Linked DNA regions of Homo sapiens. The protein of the gene in region 3 interacts with the protein of the main gene of each other region in a pairwise test. Each region holds a gene or a part of one and is shown on either strand. Other genes may lie near its edges.

The links.
Region 1: the proteins of STC2 (region 3) and PPP1R8 interact in a two-hybrid assay, tested with the Homo sapiens proteins (one large-scale study listed by BioGRID and IntAct).
Region 2: the proteins of STC2 (region 3) and AIFM1 interact in a two-hybrid assay, tested with the Homo sapiens proteins (one large-scale study listed by BioGRID and IntAct).
Region 4: the proteins of STC2 (region 3) and PTN interact in a two-hybrid assay, tested with the Homo sapiens proteins (one large-scale study listed by BioGRID and IntAct).
Region 5: the proteins of STC2 (region 3) and EIF2B3 interact in a two-hybrid assay, tested with the Homo sapiens proteins (one large-scale study listed by BioGRID and IntAct).

Annotation. Positions count from the first base shown.
Region 1 is NC_000001.11:27,848,800-27,854,115, forward strand, and holds the end of PPP1R8 (nuclear inhibitor of protein phosphatase 1), read left to right. Parts: intron 1-1,293; coding exon 1,294-1,647; 3' UTR 1,648-2,877; downstream 2,878-5,316. UniProt on the Homo sapiens protein: Inhibitor subunit of the major nuclear protein phosphatase-1 (PP-1). It has RNA-binding activity but does not cleave RNA and may target PP-1 to RNA-associated substrates. May also be involved in pre-mRNA splicing.
Region 2 is NC_000023.11:130,130,305-130,136,412, forward strand, and holds part of AIFM1 (apoptosis-inducing factor 1, mitochondrial isoform AIF precursor), read right to left. Parts: intron 5,882-6,108; coding exon 5,741-5,881; intron 3,152-5,740; coding exon 3,009-3,151; intron 1,496-3,008; coding exon 1,371-1,495; intron 1-1,370. UniProt on the Homo sapiens protein: Functions both as NADH oxidoreductase and as regulator of apoptosis.
Region 3 is NC_000005.10:173,321,915-173,327,131, forward strand, and holds part of STC2 (stanniocalcin-2 precursor), read right to left. Parts: intron 4,097-5,217; coding exon 3,954-4,096; intron 1,517-3,953; coding exon 1,305-1,516; intron 1-1,304. UniProt on the Homo sapiens protein: Has an anti-hypocalcemic action on calcium and phosphate homeostasis.
Region 4 is NC_000007.14:137,251,784-137,258,401, forward strand, and holds part of PTN (pleiotrophin isoform 1 precursor), read right to left. Parts: intron 3,192-6,618; 5' UTR 3,191-3,191; coding exon 3,076-3,190; intron 1,855-3,075; coding exon 1,681-1,854; intron 1-1,680.
Region 5 is NC_000001.11:44,974,109-44,980,726, forward strand, and holds part of EIF2B3 (translation initiation factor eIF2B subunit gamma), read right to left. Parts: intron 4,353-6,618; coding exon 4,207-4,352; intron 1-4,206. UniProt on the Homo sapiens protein: Acts as a component of the translation initiation factor 2B (eIF2B) complex, which catalyzes the exchange of GDP for GTP on the eukaryotic initiation factor 2 (eIF2) complex gamma subunit.

The DNA.
Region 1 (5,316 bases), on a different chromosome or scaffold from region 3:
TTGGAATGTTTTCTTGTCATTAAAGTACAAAATCAACAGGTGTATAGTTTTATGTCAATTTTATTGCAGTATAATTTACATATAATAAAATCTACACATTTACGTATATAGTTTTGGCAAATATATGTGTAACCACCACCATAATCAAGATAGAGAAGATTTCTCTCACTCCAAAAAGTTGCCTCGTAGCCCTTTGCAGCAGCCCACTCCCAGGCCCAGGCAGCCAGTAAATATTTTCTTCACTGTAGATTGGTTTTGCTCTCAGATTAATGTTTAAAAATTGGACACCAGGTCGGGCGTGCTGGGTCACGCCTGTAATCCCAGCACTTTGGGAGGCCGAGGCGGGCTGATCACCTGAGGTCCGGAGTTCAAGACCAGCCTGACCAACATGGAGAAACCCTGTCTCTACTAAAAATACAAAATTAGCCAGGCGTGGTGGCGCATGCCTGTAATCCCAGCTACTCCGGAGGCTGAGGCAGGAGAATGGCTTGAACCCGGGAGGCAGAAGTTGCTGTGAGCTGAGATCGAGCCATTACACTCCAGCCTGGGCAACAAGAGTGAAACTCTGTCTCAAAAAAAAAAAAAAAAAAAAATTGCACACCAAACATGGACATACCACATTTTTTCCCCCTCAAAAAAGGGTAAAATATCTATTGCCATCTTTTATCATTTCCATTTCCTAAAAGGGATTTTTTTAAAAATGTTTTTTATTTTTGAGACAGAGTCTTACTCTGTCACCCAGGCTGCAGTGCAGTGGCACCATCTCAGCTCATTGCAAACTCTGCCTCAAGTGATTCTTGTGCCTCAGCCTCCCGAGTAGCTGTGATTACAGGCACCTGCCACCACGCCTGGCTAATTTTTGTATTTTTAGTAGAGATGGGGTTTTGCCATGTTGGCCAGGCTGGTCTCAAACTCCTGATCTCATGTGTTCCTCCTAAAAGGGCATTTTAATATGAAATAAGAAAGTGAGCTATGTAACTTTAGGATAAATTAAATTGATATGTTTTACTTTATGTAAAACTCACAACACCATCCTTGGCTGATGTAGGATGGTGAAAACTTTGTTATGGAGCAGTGTTTGGGAACCATCGTAGATGACTGGAAAGGTCTCTTCAAACCGTAAGATTTCAACATCATGAAATAGGTTGTCTGGAAAGGAGAACAGGCTAGAAGTTAGGAATCTTTCCCAAAAGCCATTTTTTTAAGGCTGGAATAGAAAAAGCTAACCACTCTTGGGCCTCACCTCTTGTCTTCTCTCTCCAATCTCTCCCCTCTCCTCATCGTGAACTGTAGAAGAAGCGTGTGGAGGGCCCTGGCTCCCTGGGCCTGGAGGAATCAGGGAGCAGGCGCATGCAGAACTTTGCCTTCAGCGGAGGACTCTACGGGGGCCTGCCCCCCACACACAGTGAAGCAGGCTCCCAGCCACATGGCATCCATGGGACAGCACTCATCGGTGGCTTGCCCATGCCATACCCAAACCTTGCCCCTGATGTGGACTTGACTCCTGTTGTGCCGTCAGCAGTGAACATGAACCCTGCACCAAACCCTGCAGTCTATAACCCTGAAGCTGTAAATGAACCCAAGAAGAAGAAATATGCAAAAGAGGCTTGGCCAGGCAAGAAGCCCACACCTTCCTTGCTGATTTGATATTTTTGGTCATGGAGAAGGGTGGGATTGGGTGGGAATGGGGTGGAAGGGTGATGGGGAGCTAATGAACTAGGGAGAAAAACTTTCCATGTGTGCGGTATCGTCTTTCAGAATGTCTCCTGGCATCCTAACCATGTAATATGACAATTGGGGGTGGGGTTGAAATAGCCCATAAAGACCTGTCTTCACAACACTTGCATTGTAGAGAAAGGCTTCTTATATCCTTTTCAATAGACTGCCCTGGCTCTTTCCTAGGCCTTCCACTACCTCCTTTCTTTCTCCCACTTTCTAGGATCATTTTTATGTAAAGTCACATATCCCAGGCCCTCAGGTTGAATCCAGAGCTGTAGAGGTTACAGTAGCATCACCAGCCTTGGGGGTCCAGAGCCTAATTTATATTCACTATCCTTCCAAGTCCCGGGTAGCAGAAGGGTTGCCATAGATCTCAGTTTGATCAAAAAGAAGGCTTAGAATTCTGCAGTTAAGCTGAGGTTTAAACTAAAAAATGTTTCCTTGGGTCAGTGGTTTTGAGGTCCAGTAGCTAGGCTTTTCTCTTTTGTCCTTCCTGTTGGAATGAAAACATTTCGATTTTCCTTCATCTGTGACTGGTGCCATAGACACAGGTTTATAGTTTTAACTTACAGTATTGTTTGAAATTTACCTGTTTTTCTTGTCAAACCTGAGCACTCCTCCTGCTGAAGTTTCTTATTTAATTCCAGAGTACTGTCCTCTACTCTAAGGCATTACTTTTAAGTGTATTATGAAGGCAGTTTTCAAAGGATATGACCAGTTGGGGTAATTCAAATTAAAAAGGAAAAGATTTGTTTGGAAGTAACTGGTGTCTCTAAGAGGAATTTTTAGATGTCAGTTTGGAGGCTCTTTCCCCCCTCAATTGAGAGCTCTTGTTATTCAGAGCTCCAAGACTAGACCTGGCTAACAAACATAGGAGACAAAGTTAGGAAACATTGATACAAGCTTTGTACAGAGATTTGTACATTTGTGTAATAGGCCTTTTCATGCTTTATGTGTAGCTTTTTACCTGTAACCTTTATTACATTGTAAATTAAACGTAACTTTTGTCATTTGGGTGCAGGCTGTGAATTTGTCTCTCAGTCACTGATTGCCACTGCCATCTGGAAATGTTTGCTAAAGGCACAGTCACTGGGCTTGGGAGGCAATGCTCCATCCCCATTATATTACAAATAAAGATGCCCTAAATGAGTGTGGAAATTCTAATGAGAGAATGTAGTCCCCAGACTGAAGCCTCACAAAGCAGCGTTGGTTCGGAAGTGCTTGGTGCCCTTCATCAGGAGACCTCATGACGGGAGACGGGGCTTTAGGGCGTTTGCATAAGCCCTATCACCCACCCTGCAGTTAGAGCTCTGTGCATTTGAGCCATAGCTTGGTGACACAGGAGCAAACGGAAGCTAAAGGTAAGTAAGTTTAGGAGGGATTTCAGCAAGAATTTGAATTGAAGGAATATGCCTGCATACGGAATCTCATTTGCAGTAAGTATACTGTGTTTGTGAGACTTACATGTGGCTTTGAGATGAAGATGCCAGCTAGGTTCCAGATCCTTGGGTCAAGTGCAGACTCGTAGGAGGAGCAACCTTCTGAAGAACAGAAATTCATAACATCAGCTGTGCAAAGAGTTGACTTCCCCACAGGGTCTGTAAAAATGAGTGTCTCCCTCTCCCCCTCCCCCTCCCCCTCCCCCTCTCCCTCTCCCCACGGTCTCCCTCTCATGCGGAGCGGAAGCTGGACTGTACTGCTGCCATCTCGGCTCACTGCAGCCTCCCTGCCTGATTCTCCTGCCTCAGTCTGCCGAATGCCTGCGATTGCAGGCACGCGCCGCCACGCCTGACTGGTTTTGGTGGAGACGGGGTTTCGCTGTGTTGGCCGGGCCGGTCTCCAGCCCCTAACCGCGAGTGATCCGCCAACCTCGGCCTCCCGAGGTGCCGGGATTGCAGACGGAGTCTCGTTCACTCAGTGCTCAATGGTGCCCAGGCTGGAGTGCAGTGGCGTGATCTCGGCTCACTACAACCTACACCTCCCAGCCGCCTGCCTTGGCCTCCCAAAGTGCCGAGATTGCAGCCTCTGCCCGGCCGCCACCCCGTCTGGGAAGTGAGGAGTGTCTCTGCCTGGCCGCCCATCGTCTGGGATGTGAGGAGCCCCTCTGCCTGGCTGCCCAGTCTGGAAAGTGAGGAGCGTCTCTGCCCGGCCGCCATCCCATCTAGGAAGTGAGGAGCGCCTCTTCCCAGCCGCCATCACATCTAGGAAGTGAGGAGCCTCTCTGCCCGGCCGCCTATCGTCTGAGATGTGGGGAGCGCCTCTGCCCGGCCGAGACCCCGTCTGGGAGGTGAGGAGCGTCTCTGCCCGGCCGCCCCGTCTGAGAAGTGAGGAGACCCTCTGCCTGGCAACCACCCCGTCTGAGAAGTGAGGAGCCCCTCCGCCCGGCAGCCACCCCATCTGGGAAGTGAGGAGCGTCTCCGCCCGGCAGCCACCCCGTCTGGGAGGGAGGTGGGGGGGGTCAGCCCCCCGCCCGGCCAGCCGCCTCATCCGGGAGGGAGGTGGGGGGTCAGCCCCCCCGCCCGGCCAGCCGTGCCGTCCAGGAGGGAGGTGGGGGGGTCAGCCCCCCGCCCGGCCAGCCGCCCCGTCCGGGAGGTGAGGGGCGCCTCTGCCCGGCCGCCCCTACTGGGAAGTGAGGAGCCCCTCAGCCCGGCCAGCCACCCCGTCCGGGAGGGAGATGGGGGGGTCAGCCCCCCCACCCGGCCAGCCGCCCCGTCCGGGAGGGAGGTGGGGGGGTCAGCCCCCCGCCTGGCCAGCCGCCCCGTCCAGGAGGGAGGTGGGGGGGTCAGCGCCCCGCCCGGCCAGCCGCCCCGTCTGGGAGGTGAGGGGTGCCTCTGCCCGGCCGCCCCTACTGGGAAGTGAGGAGCCCCTCTGCCCGGCCAGCCGCCCCATCCGGGAGGGAGGTGGGGGGGTCAGCCCCCCCGCCCGGCCAGCCGCCCTGTCCGGGAGGGAGGTGGGGGGGTCAGCCCTCCGCCCGGCCAGCCGCCCCGTCTGGGAGTTGAGGGGCGCCTCTGCCCGGCCGCCCCTACTGGGAAGTGAGGAGCCCCTCTGCCCGGCCAGCCGCCCCGTCCGGGAGGGAGGTGGGGGGGTCGGCCCCCCGCCCGGCCAGCCGCCCCATCCGGGAGGGAGGTGGGGGGGTCAGCCCCCCGCCCGGCCAGCTGCCCTGTCCAGGAGGGAGGTGGGGGTGTCAGCCCCACGCCCGGCCAGCCGCCTCGTCCGGGAGGGAGGTGGGGGGGTCAGCCCCACGCCCGGCCAGCCGCCTCGTCCGGGAGGGAGGTGGGGGGGTCAGCCCCCCCGCCCGGCCAGCCGCCCTGTCCGGGAGGGAGGTGGGGGGGTCAGCCCCACGCCCGGCCAGCCGCCTCGTCCGGGAGGGAGGTGGGGGGGTCAGCCCCCCCGCCCGGCCAGCCGCCTCGTCCGGGAGGGAGGTGGGGGGGTCAGCCCCACGCCCGGCCAGCCGCCTCGTCCGGGAGGGAGGTGGGGGGGTCAGCCCCCCCGCCCGGCCAGCCGCCCTGTCCGGGAGGGAGGTGGGGGGGTCAGCCCTCCGCCCGGCCAGCCGCCCCGTCTGGGAGTTGAGGGGCGCCTCTGCCCGGCCGCCCCTAC
Region 2 (6,108 bases), on a different chromosome or scaffold from region 3:
CCCTCAGTAAACCCTGGCCTTCACCAGCCCCTCTCCAGTGACAAAGCCAAGGAAAGGTCTTCCTTGCCAGCTCCTGGGCACAGGGTCAGTCTGACCCTAAACTTCCCTCCCTTATTATCTCATTTTAAATTCATGCTATGAATATTTCCTGGTATCTGGATTTCTTCAAACTGCAGAAGGCTGGTTCTTGTCCTCTAAGAAATAATTCTAGAGCTGCATGGTCCAAATACAGTAGCCACTAGCCACAGCCATGTAAATGAACATCATTTCAAACTGAGTAAGATGTAAAATTCAGTTCCTTATCTGTACTCACCATGTTTCATGAGCTCAAAAGCCACATGTGGCTGGTGGCTAACGTACTGGACAGAGCAGAGATGGAACATTTCCATCGCAGCAGAAAGTTCTATTGGACAGTGCTATTAGACAGGTACTTTAGACAAAGCAGAAGGCACTTCCATTTGGAAAAACCATAGTGGAGGCATTTCTTCCTAGAGAAAGAGGGGAAGGGAAGGGTGGCATAGGAAGGGGGCACCTTGCTGAGAACCACCAGCCTCCAAATAATACTGTCCAGTCGACAAAGCAGTGACATGAATCCACTTACTAGGTTACTAGGAGAGATCAGAATTAAGGAATATGGAATACATTAGAATTACACAGGAAAAGGACCTACATATCCATATAATGTCTTGCTTTCTCCTTCTTAAACAGCACCTTGCCCTTGAGACACCTCTGGCAAAAGGATGCAGAAGTTAAATAACTTGAGCTAAGGTCAAGGAATAAGGTCTCGGAGTTAATGAAAGAGACATGTGTGGGAGAGAAGTCCATTCCAAGAGAGGTGCCTCCCATCTAAAGAAAACCTGGCACTAAGATCTGCCAAATGGAATGGGAGGCAGCTAAATAACTACTCAGCCCAGTTCCTCCCTGCGCAGGACCCATGGAGGATAGCCAGTCTTAAGCTAAGCCTATCAGGCCGTGTTCTTGAGATTCGCCTGAAGCAAAATAATAAAAATGACAACTGAAAGAAAGAAAAATAAAAACGCAATCTAAAAAGTTCAGGTTTTCTTGTTTTCTTCCTTAGAAAGGTCTTCCCAGAGACACACAAAACAGCAGTGTCATTGAGCTAGCCACTGTCCACTGTCTAGGACAGATACCCACAATATTTGAATCTATGCTTTGACCAGGATACCTGATTTTGCCAAATCTCAGACCACTAAAGAGTGAGGACTTGGGGTTTGGTTTCTTTTAAAGCACAACATGAAGAGAGGCTTTCACTGACAAGCCCCTCTGGCCAATACAGAAACCCCTTGTTCAGGAGAATCTGGACCACTGCTTCTCAACACTCTCCAAGAGGAGTGCTAGGACTTTCTTACCTGACTGCTCTGTGGCAGATTTGGGGTTGTCTTGTGCAGTTGCTTTTGCAAAAACACCAACTGTGGGCAAACTACTGTCCACAAGACCAATAGCTTCATAGCCAACATCGGGGCCCAAATCACTCCTAAGAAGAGAGAAGAGGGTGTTCTGTCAAGGGACTGTAAGGAATGACACGGTAGCACATATTCTCCATGACACTGCATTTTTTTTTTTTTGAGACGGAGTTTCACTCGTTGCCCAGGCTGGAGTGCAATGGGTGCGAACTCAGTTCATTGCAACCTCTCCCTCCTGGGTTCAAGTGATTCTCCAGCCTCAGCCTCCTGAGTAGCTGGGATTACAGGCACCCACTACCACCCTGGCTAATTTTTGTATTTTTAGTAGAGACGGGGTTTTACCATGTTGGCCAGGCTGGTCTTGAACTCCTGACCTCAAGTAATCTGCCCGCCTTGGCCTCCCAAAGTGCAGGGATTACAGATGTGAGCCACCGCACCCGACCAACACCGCACTCTTATGCCAACCAAAGAACTTAGTATGCAGATCACGAGAGATGCCAACTGATCTGCTGTTGCTAGAGCATCTAGGGATGACCATGAGAAAGTAAGATTAACCCTAATAGCTTTGACTTTTCCTTAAAAAGCCATTATACACGACCACATATCCATGCGGTGATTGAAACGTTCTTGAATTTATTCGTGCTTTTATCCCATGCCACATTTGGAAAGTGATGAGGTTCCCACTTTTGCTATTCACTACTTTTGTCTTGAAATTCCCTTTTTGAAGCTTTAAAGAGTGTTCCACATTTATGGAATTCAGAATTTGAGATGTTTTATGGCTTCATTAACCTACAGTATTTCCCCTTAGCCTCCACTTTTCTTTTTTTTAACTTTTAAAAACTTTTTATTTAAAAAATTCAGACGAGCTCTTGCTATGTTGTCCAGGTTGGTCTCGAACTTCTGGGCTCAAGCAATCCCCCGGCCTTGGCCTCCCAAAGTGCTGGGATTAGAGGCATGAGCAACCATACCAGACCAGCCTTCATCTTTTAGGACTGGAATGCTTTCTGACACTCCTTTTTTTTTTTTTTTTTTTTTTGAGACGGAGTCTCGCTCTGTCACCCAGGCCGGAGTGCAGTGGTGTGATCTCGGCTCACTGCAACCTCCACCTCCTGGGTCCAAGCAATTCTCCTGCCTCAGCCTACCGAGTAGCTGGGATTACAGGCATGCACCACCACGTCCAGCTAATTTTTGTATTTTTAGTAGAGACGGGGTTTCACCATGTTGGTCAGGCTGGTCTCAAACTCCTGGCCTCGTGATCCGCCCACCTCGGCCTCTGACCTATTTTGCCGGAAGTGCTGGTGCCATCTCCATTCATTCACCTAGTCTAACATACGCCAGACAGAACACTTAAAATAATTTTTTTCTCTTTTAATGTTTTACAAAAGGATCAGTTTGGTGAAAAACTAAACAGGACACTTCTGCCAGATGGCTACCTGAGGGTAGAATGTGTGGACATAAGATGGACTTTTTTCCCTTCTGTATGAAGCTAACTGGCTCATAATAAAACCAAACCATAACTCTGTGTTATGGTCCTAGAGATACTGAGTTGTAATCAGTTGGGTCTCCAAGGCACACCACTATTACCAGAACATTGACTGATGCCAGTACGGCTTAGCAGCTCCAGTCATATTTTCTCCAGCCAATCTTCCACTCACAACAGCGTGATCATGGTGCTCTACCCGCCTCCTTCCCAACTTTATATCGTAGAAGCATGCAGCATCTCCTGCCTGTGGAAACAAATACATAACATGAACACATGATAAAAAAAAAAAAAGCAAGTTAAAGACAAAATATAAACTTTGGGGGCTCAAAGAACACTTGTAATGGTAACTAATTCATGTTTTCCATCTACAGGCCAGAGTTGTACTTAAACTAACAAAAACAGCTGATAACCCATTTAAATTTTTTTTTTTTCTTTTAGACAGGGTCTCACTCTATTGCCTGGGCTGGAGTGCAGTGGTGCGATCATGGCTCACCACAGCCTGGACCTCCAGGCTCAGATGATCCTCCCGCCTCAGCCTCCCAAGTAGCTGGGACTACAGGAATGCACCACCATGCCTGGCTAAATTTTTTTTTTTTTTTTGGTAGAGATGGGGTGTTGCCATGTTGCGCAGGCTGGTTTTGAACTCCTGGGCTCAAGCAATGTGCCTGCCTCAGCCTTCCAAAGTGCTGGGATTACAGGCATGAGTCACCACGCCTGGCCTGAGATCTCATTTTAAAACATCTATTCCAGGCCAGGTGCAGTGGCAAATGCCCGTAATCCCAGCACTTTGGGAGACCAAGGTGGGTGGATCACAAGGAGTTCGAGACAAGCCTGGCCAATATGGTGAAACCCCATCTCTACTAAAAATACAAAAAATTAGGCGTGTGTGGTGGCAAGCGCCTGTAATCCCAGCTACTTGGGAGGCTGAGACAGGAGAATGGCTTGAACCCAGGAGGCGGAGGTTGCAGTGAGCTGAGATCGTGCCACTGAACTCCAGACTGGGAAACAGAGCGAGACACCGCCTCAAAAAAAAAAAGAAAAAAAAATCTATTCTGCTTCCATAAAGCTAACCTAAATCTTCTATAGTTTTGTTTACTTATGTCTACTTCCTGTTCTTTCCTTAACAGACAGGATATTTAATAACCATGATTTGCAGAATATTCTTTTCTATATGTAGAAACCAGTTTTTGGATGTGACTGCCTCTCACCTAGAAATGTTTTCTTAGATTTCTTTTTGTCACTCAGTATTCATTCATTCGACAAATATTTATGGAGTACTTATTATATACAAAAGTATTATGTTGTCCGGGTTGCTGAGACAAAACTGACATGGACCTTGACTATGAGGAGCATACAACCTAGTACAGAAAGATACAGCCTTGCTCACAACTACAGAGCAATGTAAACAGTAGTGTGCCATATGAGAGGTACAGATTAAAGGAGTCAAGTATTTCAAGCAGAGGGCGAGAACCTCCAGCCGGGGGTGAACTGGACCAGCTTCATGAAGGATGTGGCATTTGAGCTCTCTAACCCTTTGTTCATCTTTGTGGCTATTTAGACTCCCCCAAAGCAACCTAAAAATCCAACGAGTGAGCAACCGTAAACTGTGAAATTCGCTTAATGGAATATATAGTCATTAAACTGTTTACAAAGTCTGAAGCAACATAGAAAATGCTTACATTTATGGTGTTAAGTGGAAAAGAGCAGAATATTATATATAGTATGCTTGCCACGAATAAAACAAACCAACAATAAAACCTACATGCAAGGAAACACAGGGAAGGAAATACACCAAAATATTAATGGTTGCTGCAGGTGACTTTCCTCTCCTCTCTCCTTCTTGTCTGTCTTCTACATTGACCACATATTACTTTTTTTTTTTTTTTGAGACTGAGTCTTGCTCTGTTGTTGCCCAGGCTGGAGGGCAGTGGCATGATCTCCACTCACTGCAGCCTCTGCCTCCTTAGTTCAAGTGATTCTCCTGCCTCACTCAGCCTCCCAAGTAGCTGGGATTACAGGCCTGTGCCACCACACCCGGCTAATTTTTGTATTTTTAGGAGAGACAGGGTTTCACCATGTTAGCCAGGCTGGTCTCAAACTCCTGATCTCAAGTGATCCACCTGCCTCAGCCTCCCAAAGTGCTGGGATTACAGGTGTAAGCCACTTCTCCTGGCCCACGTATTACTTTTATAACAGGTTAAAAAGATCCAGTACATCTTTTTTTTTTTAAAAAAAAAAAAAAAAACAAGGTTTGGAGGGGGAAAAAAATTCCTCCAAGGTACCTACGTCCTTAGTTGCAGAGTCCATAAACAAACACAATACACTTGTAACTAGCAATGGGGAAATTACCTCATGGTTCCTACATACTATAGTCTTGTTTATGTCATAATAGATTGTAAAAAACAGCTAAAAATAGTACTCAAGGAAAATGAAAACAGAGTAATTTTCCTTTCTAGGGAACAGGTTATAACATTGCTTCATCCTCCATCCTCCGGATTCAAGTTTGAGCAAAGGGAACAGCAGATCCATCTGAAGGCTTATGTGCATGCCCACCAGGGGTTATGCCAGTAGCTGCTGCCAATAAGTAGAACCGGAAGAGCTCTACCCCTGCAGGCATGCACACTGTTCATTTCATCTGCCACTAGCTTGCAGATGAGGCCATACCTGGTCTTCTGAATCAAGCAGTTCACACATTTCTATTCTGTACCCTCAGCCTCCAAACACTCTGACCCTATTTGGTTAGGCTGTTGATGAGCTTTAGCACACCACCGGGCAGACTTGTTCACAGGCTAGGGAGAATGAATTATGCCTGGTCATGCTGTAGCACACTTACCACCCAGATGTTAGAGCGTGCTTGTAGCTCTGCATTTACCCGGAAGCCACCAAAATCTGAGTCTATTTCCAGGCCACCAGTCTTGGCCAACTCAACATTGGGCTCCAGGCCCACAGCTGCCACTATGTGGTCAGTTTCTACCTGAGGCAAAAAAGAAATAATTCAGTCAATTACCACAGTTTCCATTTATGCCTACAGGCGTAACAATGGCCCTTCATGCCATTAAGAATTGGGACTTTAAAAAATCATGGGTTAACTTACCTCTGATAAATGGATTTTAAGTTCTATTTCATAAGCCTCCACCACCCCATCCCATGCACATCCCCCATGTCATTCGAACAGAAATCTGCCACCCTAGCCAGGACTCA
Region 3 (5,217 bases):
GTTAGCCTAATTCGAGGAAAATGCAATATTGTTTTGCTTTTGGCAAGAGCTTCCTGCAGAGTTTCGCCATGAATTGTATGATTCTAACACTGTAGCAAGGGTGTTGCAAGATGCCTATGACCTTATAACCAAGTGGAAAGAGACAGGAGGTGCTTGCTGTTCTCTGTCATCTAAGTGGTGTTGGTGTGGTAGGGACATAACTGGAAGAAGGTTGTGGCACAAACTGAGGATCAAGAGTTCATAAAATTATACCGATTTGGCTCAATGAGTCACCGTGGAGAGACCAACAGTGCCATCAAACTGGTAATGACTTGTACTGAACTGGTTGGCTAGTGGCTTTCTTTCTGCCCTGTGTCTCTTAGGAAAGAGCCATTGTCAATATTTAAAAAAAAAATCTTCAGGGGCTCCTGGCCCTGCCTCATGTTAGGAACAATTGTGTACCAACATGCTTTACCATGCTGCAAAATTTAGGATCCTGTGGCTGAAATATTTTGTAAGAAATGATGCATCCTGAATTTATCATTGAATTTCAAGTCTTGAAATAAGTAAGTTCACATTTCCTTGTTTTGGCATAGAAGTGTTTAGCTGATTAAAGTTTTTGGCACTTGTTTTGCATTTCCTCTGAGAGGGCACTAATGTATGAGAGAAGGTAAACCGAACCTTCTAAGGGAAAGGAAAGTTAAGGAGGCAGGAAAAGCATCTATAGCTCTGTTTTCGGGATTTAAGAGTATAGGTTCTGGAGGCAGACTGCTCAGCAGACTGGAGCCAGGTCCCAAGTCTGGCTTTGCCTGTCACTAGCTGTGTGAGCTCTGCCTTAGTGAGTCTCAGTTTTCTCATCTGTCAAATGGAGGTGACGAGGGCTGTGGTGAGGATCAAGTGAAAAATTCACAAGGAGCCCTTAGCCCAGTGCCTGGCGCTTAGTAAATATTCAACAAATGTTATTAGCAATTTGCTGTCTGTAAGGACACCTCTACAGCTACTCAGAATATTCTGAGAGCTAGTGGGTTCTTGGCTAAGGGGAAGATGAAGAGTATTACTGAATCGACACATTTCATTCTTAGTAAAACGATTTCCCATTTCTGTTGCTTGTGATTTTGAGACTGATGAGGGAATTCTCTCTTTTCCTAAAAGCCAGCAGGAAAGGGGCCTTTTAGTAGAGTCAGTGTAGCTTTCTGAAGTAAATGGAAGCCTTCTCCATTTGACAGGCATTCAGCCTCTAGAAGCAACGCGGCTCTCCTCCCATACACATTGCCATCCTTGCTGGGTGGCCCCTTCACCCAGGCCCTCTGCGGGGCAGTACTCACTCGTGCAGCAGCAAGTCCTTGAAATGGATCATCTCCACTATCACCCGGGTGTTCTCCTGGGCAGCCGCGCACAGGTCGTGCTTGAGGTAGCATTCCCGCTGCAACTGGGACACCATTTCCCTGATGGCCGGGCACTTCCGGCTTATGCAGCCGAACCTGTGCCGCAGAGCGTGGGCCTTACATTTCAAGGCGTCTTTGATGAATGACTTGCCCTGAGAACACACAGGCCGGGGAAGGGAGAGAGGGGCAGAAAGCAGAAGACCTCGTTACATGCTTGGACATTTCAGCCCTTCTTGGGCTTACACAGGATATTTCTGACATCAGAACCCCAAGGCCCCACCAGAGACGGACGTCCTCCCAGGTGACAGGCAATGCGACATCCGGAGGCACGTCCAGAGTGACATGACACCCCCAGCACTGGGCAACAAGGGATGTTCATTCTGTAGACGAACACATCTCCCTCCTTCCTCCCTGGCTACTCTGTGAGTTTCCCTCCAACGGGGGCTTCCGTGGCTATGTGTCCCTCAGGTAGCCCTGTGTTGGTTGTGTGGTGGCAACTTTTCTGGAACACAAAGGGAATTTGGCCAGACACAAATCCATAAATCCCTCACGGTTCTCACAAGCAGTCTTCCCTAAGTGGAAGGTGCCTGCATGTCCAAATCTCACACGTTTCCTTTTTCCCTTGATTCCAGGGGCGACACCGAGATTGATTGCTGATTGTACCTCCCTTTCTGCCTCCGTGCCTCCCACGCCCCAAATCCATACCCTTGTCTCCTCCTACCCTACCAGGAAGAGCGCTCTTTTCCTTTTTGAAAATGACTCTACTCCTTTAAACTGTTCGGATTATTGCCTCTAAAAGGCTGGCCTGGCACCCTGCCTGGCAGCATCTGGAGTCTGAACTGCCGCACTGGCGGCCCCTCCCCCACGCTCCCTGCCTCCGAGTGGCGAAGGCAGCCAGGCATACATCTGGCCTGCAGTTCTCTTTCCTGGCAACCCCGTCTGATTGTGCTTATCCTAGAAAGGAGACAGCTGTTGGGGGTGTGGAGGCGAGCTCGGTGCTGCTCCCTTATCAACCTCGCGCAGCCCGGAGGCATTGTGGGATGCCTACCCGGGAATCCCCGCACCCCACATTACTATAGAAACTAGCTGTCGTCGGAGAGGTCACCCCTCTGTTTTTAGACAGGCCCGGAAGTCACTGAGTTGAGAAAGTAAATGGGTTTAGGTTGGAAGTGGGAAGCCAGCCAGCACATTTATTTTGGTTTTGTCTTTAGCAGCCATAGAAATGTCTACAGATAGCGTCTGATCTCTGAAAAACCATGTGGCCCGCATGGCCTCCCCGTGGCCCCCTCTCTTTTGACTCTCCAGCCAGAGCCAAACAGAATGGAGGGCAGGGTGTGCCCGTTTATTAAGCAGTTATGTGCTGAGCATCAACTTGAAAGGGATGTCTCTAACTTGAGAACGTATTCCTGTTGGTTGGGAAAAAAAAGAGGAAGATGAATTTATGCGAGGGCTGTGGCAATCTGTTCTTGGTATTCTTCCCTGACATCCTGTGGGATTGCCCTTAAATACACGTCTTTCCTCCGGATTTCCTATTACGTTTCCTAATTCCCGTTAATCCAGAGTGATGCTTTATTAGGGAGCCTCAAGGAGTTCAAAGTTCTACCTCTTTCCTTCCCTGGTTTCAGTTTCCCCTCTGGCCACACCGCACATCCTCTGCAGTTTAGGCTGCCAGCCCCGTCTTCGCCTCCCCTCCTTGTTCCCAGGCACTGCTTTGTCAGGCTCACTACTATATGTCAGTGGATGGGGACTGGTGACATCCATAAATCTCACCTAAGCTGATGGCCACCTCCAAATGTTGGCATTGCTCTCCAATGAAGCAGGAGAGACGTTTCTGAGATATAGTAACAGGGCGTTTCAACAGGGCATATAAGTGGCCAGGGAGAACACGAAGAAGGTGAGTCTGATGCCACATGCCATCTAAAAATGTATTTGCGTTGTTGGCACTGGAGCCATATGTTGCTTGTTGTGTTCCTGCCTTGCCCTGAGCAGCAACTCCGCGTTCCCCTTGGGACCCTGGGATAACCGAAGTGGGTCAGGCCCTGACTATATTTATCATATAGAGCAAAAGGAAAGTGTGGAACTGAAGGACTCAATCAGGGTTTCGACCGGTCAGCTTGGGAGAGAAAGATCTGCTACTCAGGAGGAATAGAAGTCTGCTCTTTTGGAGGTCCTGAGTTATTCGGGTTGGCTGCCCACACACCACATGACGGATTTCTACATACTTTGTGTCTCATTTTCCTAGTAGGTGAAATGACTTCTGAAATGTATAATTGGGGGTTCCTGCCCCTGCCTCTCATGCAGTGGGCTTTGGAGACTGAGTTCTGGGTGGCCAGACACAGCGTGTCCCCTTACAAGGTGTTTATCGTTTATTATGACATTGGTCTCCAGTCCACCCTGCCTGTGTAGACACAGCTTATGAGTGCAGAAGGGAGACACTGGCATAATGTTTTATACCTAGACTGTCGCTTGCAAGCACTAAAACACACCACAAGGAACAGCAAAGGAAGTTGGTTAACAAGGCTTTCCAATGAACGTTTCAATCATGTATGCTCACCCCAAACATTCTTCATGCTCTGGATGGATTTTTACCTGGGCATCAAATTTTCCAGCGTTGTGCAGAAAAGTCATGCAAATCCCATGTAAGCCCCGAATCTCACAAGAGTTGTTCTCGAAACATTCAAACACGCCACACCCCACATCGCCAGCGTTGACCAAACAGTGCTGGATCTCCGCTAAAAGGAAAATCACATACAAATATATACAAAACTCTAACCCATGCTGGGCAATGCAGAGAGGTCATTTGAAATAAAAGTTAACAACTAAAGGAAAATTTAAGGAGGAAAAAAGACTTAGTAATGACTATTTCAGGACCTAAAAAGCCTGGGAAACAAAATTTCGTCCTTTAATCTACTCATGAAAAATATCTCTATTTGTAAATATTTGTAGAAAAGAGCCGAAAAATTACAAAAATTACAACCAGAAGGCTGGTCTGAGCATTCCTCCTTTTCATCCTTTCCATTTTATTAAAGTATTTGTGGGAATACTTAGTTTGAGAGCAAAATATATTTCCGCTTTTTAAACCCACAGACAAAAATAAAATTTTGAGTCGAAGACTGTACTTCATCAATGAAGTACCCTTCTCTACTTGATCTGTAGAAGTTGCTGCTATTAAATCACAGCCATTTGCTTCCTGACCCCCAAATGACAGCATCTAAAAAGCAGTTTCAATTCAGCTTTATGATTCAACACCTAAAAATCAAAACAAAATTCCTATTAAGGCAGTGCCTCCCAACCCTTCGCATTAAAATACCAGCTAGGGAAGCTGCGGTTGGCGAGCAGGCTTAGGAGTGGAGTCAGCTGGGGGCGAGCCTTCAGAAACGCCACTATCAGAGGTTGCAGGCTCCTTTTAATTAGGGATCCGGGTGAGGTATCACCCAATCCCCTAGAATTCCCGCAGCCCGGGAGGAAGCTTGCAGCCCTTCACCGAATGTGGCCCCCAGTCCTCTCTCGGAAGGGGCAGACGGAGGGAGTTAACTGTCAGGCTGCAGCGTGCAAAGCCTCTTCCCTCCCTTTCCACTACCCAAGTCTCTGATTTAAATCAACCACAAAATTACATCAGAAAAGTATATTTTGGAAGAAGGGCGGGGTCGGAGCAGATAACCCGCATCAGATTAAATCTAGCCAGAGAATGAGGGGCGTGTATTGTTGAGGGTCACCGACCACCGAGAATCAGGTTCAGTTCTCAGAGGAAGCGCCAGAGGAGGGGGAGGGTGGGCGAGGGTCTCGGGGTGGTGGGGGTGCCGGCCCCAGCATGTGGAGGCGACAGGATCCGTAAGACCCCACGCGCCGCCGG
Region 4 (6,618 bases), on a different chromosome or scaffold from region 3:
ACAATATGTAAACTTCTGAGATTGGCTTTTTTATTTAGCATAATTTCCTGAAGATCCATCCAAGTCATGTGCATCAATAGTCTGTTTCTTCCTATTGCTGAGTAGTATTCCATGGTCCCAATGTACCCCAGTTTGTTTAACCATTCATCAGCTGAAGGACATCCGAGTTGTTACCAGCCTTGGGTTACTACAAATAGAACTGCTATATAAATTCATGTATAGGTTTTTGTGGAAACATCAGTTTTCATTTCTCTGAGATAAATTACCAAGAAACTGCTGTGTTACATGGTAAATGCATGTTTCATTTCGTAAAAAACTGCAATACTCTTTTTCCACTGTGGCTGTACCACCTTACAATTTCCACTGGCAACATATGAGGGATCTGGTTTCTTGGCACCCTCACTAGCATTTCGTCTTGTCACTATTTTTTATTCTAGCCACTTTGATAGATGTAGAGTGATATCTCATTATGGTTTCAATTTCTAGTTCCCTAATAAGGAAAAGATGCTGAATATATTTTCAGGAGTTCATTTGTTGCCTATATATCCTCTTTGGTAAAATGTCTGTTAATGTTTTTTCCCCACTTTCTTATTGAACTGTTAGGTTTTGTTTGTTTTGTTTTTTGTTGTTGTTGTTTTGTTGTTTACTGTTGAGTTTGAGAGTTATTTAATATTCTCAATGTAAGTCTTTAAGATATACCTTTTAAACTTTTTGTAAGTGGGTTTTTAAGGTGCCCATATACAATTTAAGACCAAATGTACCTGTTCTCCATCACACTTTTATAGAACTTGTCTATATCCATTCAAATAAAAAATACCCCAAAGATTACAGAGGGAGAAAAAGACATACATGTATACATCCATTATCCTTCCTCACTTGTCTATGGGCCACAATGCATTTCCATAGAACACAGATAGGACATTTCAGGCATCATGTCCCACTATGGCTAAGAAAGACAAAAAGTCTGGATTGTGGAAGAGGTTATTTGAGGGTTCAATACTGGATATAAAGTTGAAAGTGTTGAGAGATCCTGTCTCAGATAGATAGATCAGGCCAGCATAAGACTGACTCCAGTCAGTGGGAGAAAGATTTATGAAACGTGGCTGTGAGCAGCCCTGCTGAACTCAGTAAGTGAATCTGTGAAACTGTGTGGAGGTTGGGGAGGGATCAAATGGGAGAGAAGGTCTGAAAGTGACAGGGAGAAACATGGAGAAGCAGGAGAATAAATAAGAAAAGGGGAAAGGAAAAATCAAAGGAACTTAGAAATAGAAGAAAGGAGAGAGAAGACAGATCAATTAACATTATTCAGAGGAATCAAGGATATATTTTATGTCCCTTTGGAAAGGCAGTGGTTCCCAACCAGGGATGATTTTGACCAACAGGGTACATTTGGCCATAGATATTTGGAGACATTTTTAGTTTTCACATCTGGAGCGGGTGAGGAATGCTACCGGAAACTAGCGAGTAGAAGCCAGCGATGCTCCTAAATACCCTAAAATGCACAAGACAGCCTCCACAACAAATAATTGCCTGGCCTGAAATGGGACCAGTCTGGTCACTTTGTGTCTGGTAAGATAAAGTTATTTAAAATAAAAAGTACTTATCCTTAAAAAGACATTTGGTGGAAAAATTTGAGAATTATCTCAGAGTAGGAGATTAACTCAGTAGCATGAGGCTTACCGCCAAATTGCTTCTTCCAGTTGCAGGGGATCTTACATCTCTGGGTCTTCATGGTTTGCTTGCACTCAGCTCCAGTCCGAGTGCCCTCCCGTGTGCCCAGCCCACAGTCTCCACTGGTGGGCACACACACACTCCACTGCCATTCTCCACAGTCAGACTTCTTCACTTTTTTTTCTGAATGAAAGGAGGAAAACCTAATCAACATACAGAAAACTCCTTAACTTCCAGATATAACCAAGTTCATTCCTGAGCACCTTAATTGCAGGATCTGTGTTTTTTAATCTGTATCCTTATTGTCTAATGAATAGTAGAAACATGATGAATATTAACCAAATTATTGAACCAATGAATGATCAAGAGAAGAGAGAAAGAAAACTGAGAAAAGAGCTAAAACTAATATTAATTGAACTCCCTCTTACTATGTGCCAGAGACTGTGCTAAGTGATTTAGTGGCATCTCCTTTTAGAAGCAAACATTTCTATAAAAGAAGAGATGGTCAAAAATATAGTTCTCCTAAAAATGAAGAAAATATTCTATTAGAAATAACAGTTGTCAGCTGGGCAAAGTGGCTCATGCCTGTAATCCCAGCACTTTGGGAGGTCGAAGCAGGCAGATCACAAGGTCAAAAGATCGAGACCATCCTGGCTAACATGGTGAAACCCCAACTCTACTAAAAATACAAAAATTAGCTGGGCGTGGTGGTGCATGCCTGCAGCCCCAGCTACTCGGGAAGCTGAGGCAGGAGAATCACTTGAACCGGGAGACAGAGGATACAGTGAGTTGAGATCGCACCACTGCACTCCAACCTGGTGACAGAGCGAGACTCCAACTCAAAAAAAAAAAAAAAGAAATAACAGTTGTCAAATGAGCCATTTCAGTGTAAGTTGTTGTTCCTTTCTCTGCCTTGTAGAAGGAATGACATCATACAAATATGGTGCATCACAGATTTAAACAGACTGTCAGTTCCACAGCCTACTTATGACTTTGGGAGTGGCATAGAGAAGGTGCTTTATCTTCTCTGTGCTTGTTTCCTCCTCTGTAAATCTGAAATTAAGGAGAAAAACAAGTTGCAGTGCATTTTTTTTTTTTTGAGGTAGAGAGGTAAATAATAAAGCACCTGATTACCGGTCAATGTTCTATACATAGTAGCTGCTAATTTGATCATTATATTAATGATCATCATCGTCATGCAATCCAAGACTTACAATGGGAGAAAAATAAGACAGGATATTTCTTAGGTTCCTCTAAGTAATTATTTTTGAAAAGGGAAGATTGAAGGAATAGAGGAATAGGAAGGGAGAGAGGCAGAGTAGAAGAGAGGAAGGAAAAGCAGGTAATTAGACTAGATGGACATTAATCAATGAAGCATCTTGCCTTCAGAACCCTACTGCTTACCTGGTTTCTCTTTCTTCCCTGCTTCAGCAGTATCCACAGCTGCCAGTATGAAAATGAATGCCAAGAAGGCAGCTGCAAATTTTCGACGCTGCTGCTGGTACTGTTGAGCCTGCATTCTAGGAATAAACAGAGAAAGAGAAGAAGGTGGCATTAACCTAAGTCAGAAAGGAAGATTCATTGAACCCTTGATGAAAAGGCTCCACTTTCCATTTCTGGAATGTTAGATTTCAGGAAGATTCATATCAATTATCTTGGGTAGAATTTTATCTATTCTTACCAACAGCCATTGAAATAAGTGCTCTTCTGCAATCAATCACGTATTCACTGACAAAACGCAACAGTTCTTCACTTAAGACTTCACAACCATTTGCTAAGTATGACTCAGAAATTATGGAAGCAAAAGAACTTTGAAGGCATGCATTTGAACACAGTCCTACTGTCTTGCTGATAGCATCACTTGGTAATATCGACAACTACAGCCATCTTCAAAATTCCTGACAATATTAGAAACAACCACAGCAATGATACTGCTGTACACAAGACCAATTTGAGTAGACATGATGAATGAATTACCTATACAAGTATATGTTTACTGTTTCTATTTAGACGCATACACAACAACCAACATCTCTGATCTTTTTAAAATCATTGTCATAATCATCACTATCATCTTATTATTCCATTATTTATTGATCTAACAAAGAGTGAATCCCAGAAGTAGAGCTAGCACACCTGTGATACATATCAAACACAATGATAAATTCGCATGTGCTAAAAATCCTCTAATCTTAGGATATGGTGAAGTCTTTACACTCACTCATAATAGGAAATGCTCACATTTGATGTGAATCAAAAATCCCAAGATATCATTAGAAAGACTCTCCTAGAACTTGAAGCCACCTGTGACAGCCTAGTGTCAATATGGTCACTTGGCCAAAACACCCTTGAGAAAGTTTCAGTCCAAGCTCCAGGACGACCCACTTCCCAATGGCTACACCATATCATGGCTGCAGCAACTTGCCTGGCAGTTATTGAGCTCCATCTGCTGTGTTAGTGGTGTGTTATACTTCACATAAAAATGGTTGTAATGTCCTATGATCATAGGCTGATAATTTTTTTTCCAGAGGTAGTACTAGATTAGTTTAGGTGTTTCAACATTCTCTTTAGTGTGAACAATAAAACGTTTCATGTATATAAGGGGTTGAGATTATTCTTTTCTCTAATTTATTTTCCTCATTGAAAAATATCTGAGATGATATCCTTGCCCGTGAATTTTTCTCCTTTTCTGTGGCATTGTATATGCTGTCTCTTATTAGTGTTTTTTTAAATTTATTTATTTTTAATTTTACTTTAAGTTCCAAGATACATGTGCAGAATGTGCAGGTTTGTTACACAGGTATACATGTGCCATGATGGTTTGCTGCACTTATTGACTGGTCCTCTAAGTTCCCTCCCCTTACCCCACACCCCTCAACAGGTCCTGGTGTGTGATGTTCCCCTCCCTGTGTCCATGTCTTCTCAATGTTCAACTCCCAGTTATGAGTGAGAACATGCGGTGTTTGGTTTCCTGTTCCTGTGTTAGTTTGCTGTGGATGATGGCCTCCAGCTTCACTCATGTCCCTGCAAAGGACATGATCTCATTCCTTGTTATGGTTGCCTAGTATTCCATTGTATATATGTACCAAATTTTCTTTATCCAGTCTATCATTGATAAGCTTTTGGGTTGGTTCAATGGCTTTGCTATGTAATAGTGCTGCAATAAACCTATGTGTGCCTGTGTCTTTATATTAAAATAATTCATATTCCTTTGGGTATATACTCAGTAATGGGATGGCTGGATCAAATGGTATTTCTGGTTCTAGATCCTCAAGGAATCACCACACCGTTTTCCACAATGGTTGAACTAATTTCCAGAATTTACAAGGAACTTAAACAAATTTATAAAAAACAAAACAAAACAAAACAAAACAAAAACCCCATCAAAAACTGGGCAAAGGATATGACAGACACTTTTCAAAAGACATTTCTGCAGCCAACAAATATGAAAAAAAGCTCAACATCACTGATCATTAGAGAAATGCAAATCAAAACCACAGTGAGATACCATCTCAAGCCAGTCAGAATGGCAATTATTAAAAAGTCAAGAAACAATAGATGCTGGCAAGACTGTGGAGAAATAAGAATGCTTTTACACTGTTGGTGGGAATGTAAATAAGTGTTGTTTTTAAAAATTGATGACTTTGGATTCCAACATATGGATGAAGCATATTTCACTTATCAATTAAAATTAATATTTTGAACCTTAATTTTTTCCCTGAATCACAAGCCTAGATTAGCTACTCACCATCTCCAGCACTTTCTACAATATAAGATAAGGTGCTTTGTTCTTCCTCCTGAGGCTAAATTCTTATTATATCAGATTGGTGCAAAAGTGATCATGGCTTTTGCCCTTAAAGTAAAAATCGCAGTTACTTTTGCACCAACCTAATACCTCATGAATGGTCACGCAGAAAAGTTTCTACTGATTCTGAGGCTTTTCCTGCGCTTTTAATTGGGTGTGAATGGTAAAAGAAGCCAGTCTAGACTCATAGGTTTGCAAGTCTTTTCAGAGTTCTTTGAGTTGGGCACTGGTACATCAGTGCTACTATATCTTTCATAATGTACTCAAATGTCATTTAAAATTATTAGGTGTAAAGTAAACCAAAGTGGAAGTCTTTGAGCTTTCCCCAGAGGCTGGCTGAAAGCCTTCTTTCTGTCACTTTGGCAGAAACTTTTCATTTCAATTGTTTAAAAGGGCAAATTATTTTTTTGATTCAGAACTTTTAAATTACAATATATTTCTTTCCAAGTTAAAATTTACCTGCATTTTCAACAGTTACTTACAAATATCAGAAGTATTTAGGTTGTTGAGAATTAGATTACTGTGAGAATTTGGAAATTCTCATGGAGAACGCAGAACTCTTGAGAGAACTTTCTGCCCAAGCCATGGGATGCTCATCCATAGTCCTATGATACCTACAGCAAGAAGAGAGGCCAGAAGCACCTCAGAGCCCACTGGAGAAATATGATAACTTGGCAGAAATAGAAAGACTCTACCTTCTGTAAATAATACAATAACACACATATACACACACATGCACACACAGAGTTATTCATGGCAAGGTGCTATCACTGGCAAGTTTTAACCTCAGCATTTCTAGTTTTATATTGTTAAACTCTTGTTTTCATCGTTATTTTCAAAAAGATTTCCTTAATCCAGTTCTATTCACTGATTTCAAGGAAAAAAACACACAGGCCATAATTTCCAAATCAAATAAAATTTTTAGTATAGAATAGTCTACTAAACAAGTCATTATAACTGAAATATGAGCTGACTGGAAAGAAGGAAAGGTAAGTACTAGATGGGAGTTGGAGAGAAAGTAGAATGGAAATACACTCTATCTGCCTCTAATGTTAATTTAGAATAATTAAGAACATTAAGAATTGAGTAAATGGTGGATTTCAGCACTTAAATCTTCTATGAAATAAATGCACACAAGTCCA
Region 5 (6,618 bases), on a different chromosome or scaffold from region 3:
GCCAAAAGTGAATGGAAATGCCTATATACATTGTACTGGAGGTCCTGGCCAGGGCAATGAGACAATTTTTTTTTTTTTTAAAGAGCTGGGCATAGTGGCTCATGCCTGTAATCACAGCATTTTGAGAGGGCAAGGTTGGGGGTATCACTTCTGTCCAGGAGTTCCAGACCAGGCCTGGGCAATACAGTGAGATCCTTTCTCTCTATATATAAAAAAAGTCCAGGTGTGGTGGTGCATGCCTGTAGTCTCAGCTACTTGGGAGGCTTAGGTAGGAGGATCACCTGAGCCTGGGGAGGTCGAGGTTACAGTGAGCCGTGATCGAGCCACTGCACTCCAGCCTGGACAACAAAGTAAGACCCTGGTCTAAAAAAAAAAAAAAGAAAAAAAAAGAAATTAGCCGGGCATGGTGGCACATGCCTGTAGTCCTAGTTACTTAGTTACTTGGGAGCCTGAGGTGGGAGGACTGCTTGAGCCCAGGAGTTTGGGGCTACAGTGAGCTGTGACCACACAACTGCACACTAGCCTGGGTGACAGAGTGAGACTGTCTCAAAAAATAAAATTAATGTAATTTAATTTTTAAAAAGAATAAAGATTAAGAAGGAAGATATAATACTGTTTTTATTTGCAGGCAATATGATGATAAGGTCCTAAACGAATCTATAATTTAAAAGGTCACAGCGCATAATGCCAAAATACAAAAATCAATTGTATTTCTATGTACAAGCAATAAACAATTGAAAATAGAAAAAATACCAGTTACAATATCATTAAAAATATTTACCTAGGAATAAATTTATCAAGACATGTTCAAAATTTCTACATTGGGCTGGGTGTGGTGGCTCATGCCTGTTATCCCAGCACTTTAGGAGACTGAAGTGGGAGGACAGCTTGAGCCCTGGAGTTTGAAACTAGCCTGAGCAACACAGTGAGACATCTCTACTAAAATAAAAATCTAAAAAATTAGCTGTGCATGGTAGCATGTGCCTGTAGTCCCATCTACTTGAGAGGCTGATGTGGAGATCACTTGAGCCCAGGAGGTTGAGGCTGCAGTGAGCCTTGATCACACCACTGCACTCCAGCCTGGACGACAGAGCAAGGCTGTCTCAAGAAAAAAAAAATCATCACTGAAAATTACAAAACTCAGTTGAGAGAAATTAAGCGAAACTTAAATAAATAGATACACAATTATGTGTTACTTAATGACAGCGATATGTTCTGAGAAATCCGGTATGTTCTGAGAAATGCATTGTTAGGTGATTTCGTTGTGCGAACATCATAGAATGTACTTACTCAAACCTAGATAGTATAGCCTACTACATACCTAGGCTATATGGTATAGCCTATTGTTCCTAGGTAACAAACCTGTATGTTATTATATACCATAGGTAACTGTAACACAATGGTAAGTATTTGTGTATTTAAACATATCTAAACATAGAAAAGGTACAGTAAAAATATGGTATTACAATCTTATGGGACCACATATGTGGCCAGTCATTGACCAAAAATCGTTATGTGGCACATTACTATATATACGATGTTCAAGGATCAAAAGATTCAATATTAAGATGTCAAATCTGAGCTGGGTGAGGTCGCTCATGTGTGTAATCCCAGCACTTTGGGAGGCCAAGGTGGGTAGGTCACTTGAACCTGGGAGCCCGAGACCAGCCTGGCCAACATGGTGAAACCCTGTCTCTATAAACTACAAAAATTAGCCAGGTGTGGTGGCACACACCTGTAATCCCAGCTACTCAGGAGGCTGAGGCACGAGAATCAGTTGAACCTGAGAGGTGGAGGCTGCAGTGAGGTGGTGCGGTGAGGAGGTGCAGTGGAGGTGGAGATTGCACCACTGCACTCAGCCTGGGTGAGAGAGCAAGACTCTGTCTCAAAAAGAATACAAAACAAAGACAAAACCATAGAAGAACATCTACACAAAGGTCAGATGGGCAGAGATTTCTTAGGCCGGACACAAAAAGCAATAACCATAAAAGAAAAAATCAGTAATTTGGATTTCATCATCATTAAAAACTTTTCTTCAAGAGACACCATTAAATAAAAAGCCACAGACTGGTGGAAAATATTCACAACACATATCTCACAAACGACTTGCATCTGGACTATATTAAGAATTCCTATAATCAATAATGGAAAGGCAAACAACTCAATTAAAAAATAGACAAATGCTTTGAACAGACACTTCATGAACATATATAAATGGCCAATAAACACATGAAAAGGTGTTCAGCATCATTACCATCAGGGAAATGTAAATTAAAACCACAATGAGATACCACTACATACATACCTACTAGAATGGTTAAAATTAAAAAGACTGACAACACCAAGTGTTGATGAAGACGTGAAGCAAACGCAACTCTTACAAACTGTTGATGAAAGTATAAAATGGTACAATCACTTTAGAAAACTGCTAGTTTCCAATAAAGTAAACCTTACAGCCTATAGAATATTTTCACAAAAAGACCTGCAGAACAATGCTCATAATAGCTTTATGCATGATAGCCAAAAATTAGAAACAACCCAAATAACTGTCAATAGGAGGATAGATAAATAAATAGTAGTATATTCATTCAATGGAATACTACTAAGCATGAAAAGGAACAGATTAGTTATACTTTCAATAACATGAAAGAATCTGAAAAATATGTTGAACAAAAGAAGCCAGAACAAAATTGTATGTTTCCATTTATATGAAGTTTATAAGCAAATAAAATTAATACATAGTGATAGAAACAGAAGAGTGGTTGACTCAGAAGATCAGAGACTTACTAGAAAGAAGCACAAAGGAACTTTCAGGGGTGATGGAATTGTTCTAGATTTGGATAATGGTAATCTAGGTGTATATTTAGTATCTGTGCATTTTACTGTGTATAAATTATTCCTCAATAAAAGGGGTGGGAAAGCCATGTACATATTTGCATTAATTTTTTGTTTTATAGTACAAAAGTCGGTTGAAAATAACACATCCGTTTAATCACCAGAAATAACAGAAGAAAGTTTGTCTCCCATTTCAAGTAATATGGCAACATCACAACGATTGAATTTTTTCCAAAGAAAAACAATTTTAGAACAATCTACAGTGGATCTTTCTCAGCTCATGGGCCACAAACCATTGGGGAGACTATGTTCTCATATCTATGTGCTCCTTAGTTTCTTAACCAAAGGTTAACTAAAAGTTCAAATATTACATGGGAGGTCTATGAATTTTTGAACGTTCCTTTGTACTTCTTTCTAGTCAATCCTCACCTGCAGAGTCAACTGCTCCTCTGATTTATACATTAACATTGCTTGTTCACAAACTTCATATGAATGGAATCTTTTGAAGTACATTTAGAGTATATCTTTTTTTTTTTTTTGAGATGGGATCTCACTCTGTTGCCCAGGCTGGAGTGCAGTGGCATGATCTCGGCTCACTGCAACCTCCACCTCCTGGGTTCAAGCGATTCTCCTGCCTCAGCCTCCCCAGTAGCTAGGATTACAGATGTGCACCGCCATGCCCAGCTAATTTTTGTCTTTTTAGTAGAGACAGGGTCTTACCACGTTGACCAGGCTGGTCTCAAACTCCTGACCTCAAGTGATCCACCTGCCTTGGCCTCCCAAAGGGATTACAGGCATAAGCCACTGTGCCTGGCCTAGAGTATGTCTTTTTTTTCTTTTTTAATAAAAATGTGCTATTACTCAAAAACATTGGAAACCAGTGACTATGACAAATTAATGTCTAAATCTTTACTAGTAACCAAATCAAAGAGCAACTGAAGAGTACATGGGTAACAAAGTATGTGATGTAAAAATATATCAGAAATAAAGTTTTGTAAACTATAATGCACTGGGGGCCAGGCGTGATGGCTCACGCCTGTAATCCCAGCACTTTGGAAGGCCGAGGAGGGTGGATCACCTGAGGTCAGGAGTTCGAGTCTAGCCTGGCCAACATCCCATCTATACTAAAAATACAAAATTAGCCAGGCACGGTGGCGTATGCCTGTAATCCCAGCTACTTGGGAGGCTGAGGCAGGAGAATTGCTTGAACCCGGGAGGTGGAGGTTGCAGTGAATTGAGATCACACTACTGCACTCCGGCCTAGGTGACAGAGCGAGGTTCTGTCTCAAAAAAAAGACTATAATGCACTGGGAAAACATAAGATATCATCTATCTTCAATAAACAAGAAGAGTCAAAAAATTGCTTTTCACCTTAAGTTTTGGATATATGTAGCGCAAAGAATCTGCAGTTCCCATGTCAGCGTCATCAGGAATACACACAATATCTGGCTTCATTTTCATCTTGAATTCTGCACATAGAGCCTTTTGAACATCCCTGGTTGTAACCACAATGACTTCTATAGGACAAAAGAAAAAAAGAAAGAAAAACAAAAACTTACTCATATAGACAGTGGTTCCATTATTTCAATTAGATTTGGTCTATTTCTAGGTGTAATAACAACTGCTAATATTATTGTGCCTTTTCAATATATTTTACCTGCATTCCCCCAATAAATTCTTTTTTTTTTTTTTTTTTTTTTTTTTTTTTTTACAGACAGGGTCTCACTCTGCCACTCAGGCTGGAGTGCAGTGGCACTGTCGCAGTTCACAGCAGCCTCAACCTCCCAAGATCAGGCAATCCTCCCACCTCAGCCTCCCAAGTAGCTGAGACTACAGGCATGTGCCACCATGCTTGGCTAATTTTTGTATTTTCTGTAGAGATGAGGTTTCGCTCTGTTGCCCAGGCTGGTCTCCAACTCCTGGGCTCAAAGGATCCGCCAGCCTTGGCCTCCCCAAGTGTTGTGATTACAGACGTGAACCACTGCATCTGGCCTCCCCCCAATTAATTCTTAGAACAATCTCATCTTACAAATGAGGAATCTTGGATTAAAAGACATGCTGGCTGGGCGCAGTGGCTCATGCCTGTAAATCCCAGCACTTTGGGAGGCCGAGGCAGGCGGATCACTTGAGCCCTGGAGTTCAAGACCAGCCTGGGCAACATGGCAAAACCTTGTCTCTATAAAAAAACTCCAAAAAACCAGAGGTTTAGGTGGGAGGATTGCTTGAGTCTGGGAGGTGGAGGTTGCAGTGGGCCAAGATCACCCCACTGCACTCCAGCCTGGGTAACAGAGTGAGTCTGTCTCAAAACAAACAAACAAACAAAAAAAAACCTCAGGTCTATATGAATGGTGCCCACACTTTAATATATTATATGCCACTTCTCCTTGATATGAAGAATTCAGAAGAACATTAATCAAAAATACAAATGGGAAGAAATATAAAAAACACTCTGGGAAGCCAAGGCAGGCAGATAACTTCAGCCCAGGAACTCAAGACCAGCCTGGGTAACGTGGCGAAACCCTGTCTCTGCCAAAAAAAAAAAAAAAAAAAAAAGGAGGAAAGAAAAATTATCCAGGTGTGGTGGCATGCATGTAGTTGCAGCTACTCAGGAGGCTAAGATGGGAGGATCGTTTGATCCCAGGAGGCAGAGGTTGCAATGAGCTGAAATCATGCCACTGTACTCCAGCCTTGGACGACAGAGCAAGACTCTGTCTCTAAAAAACAAAAAAACCAAAGGGGGCCATGCGTAGTGGCTCACACCTGTAATTCCAACACTTTGGAAGGCCGAGACAGGCAGATCACTTGAGGTCAGAAGTTCAAGACCAGCCTGGACAACATGGCGAAACCCTGTCTCTATTAAAAATACAAAAAAATTAGCCGGGAGTGGTGGTACACGCCTGTAGTCCCAGGTACTCGGGAGACTGAAGCAGGAGAATTGCTTAAACCTGGGAGGTGGAGGTTGCAGTGAGCTGAGATCACACCACTGTACTCCAGCCTGGGCGACAGGGTGAGACTCCAACATTTTAAATCTTCATTCAATACAAAGAGAGAGCTATTAAGCTACCACCCTTCCTATTGGAGGCAACTCTAATAATGGAATGAACACTGGATCACAAGACTGGGCCTCAGGCTTTGGCACCCTGATTTATTACATCTAAATATAGGACACCTCAAACTCAATGTGACCAAAGCTGAACTCATTATTTTAATGAAAATAAAATTCATTAAAACCTTTTCCTGGCCAGGCACGGTGGCTCATGCCTGTAATCCCAGCACTTTGGGAGGCCGAGGTGGGCAGATCACGAGGTCCTGAGATCGAGACCATTCTAGCTAACATGGTGAAACCCTGTCTCTACTAAAAATACAAAAACTTAGCCGGGCATGGTGGAAAATGCCTGTAGTCCCAGCTACACAGGAAGCTGAGGCAGGAGAATCACTTGAACCCGGGAGAGGTTGAACCCTGGCGGAGGTTGTAGTGAGCCAAGATCGTGCCACTGCACTCCAGCCTGGGTGGCAGCGTGAGACTCTGTCTCAAAAAAAAAACACCTGTTCCTTGTCTCCTATTCCTTTTCCTACTTAATGGCATAACTATCTACCTAGCTACCCAAGCAAAAAGTAGAGAGGATCACTAGACTTTAAAGTTCTGGAAGTCAGGGCCTGAGCTGTCTTTTCAATTCTGTACCTCCGTGTTTAATATATAACCTGGTACTTACATCAAAACAAAATTTAAAACATATATATATTGAATATCAGATAATATAAATATTACCTGGTACATAATAG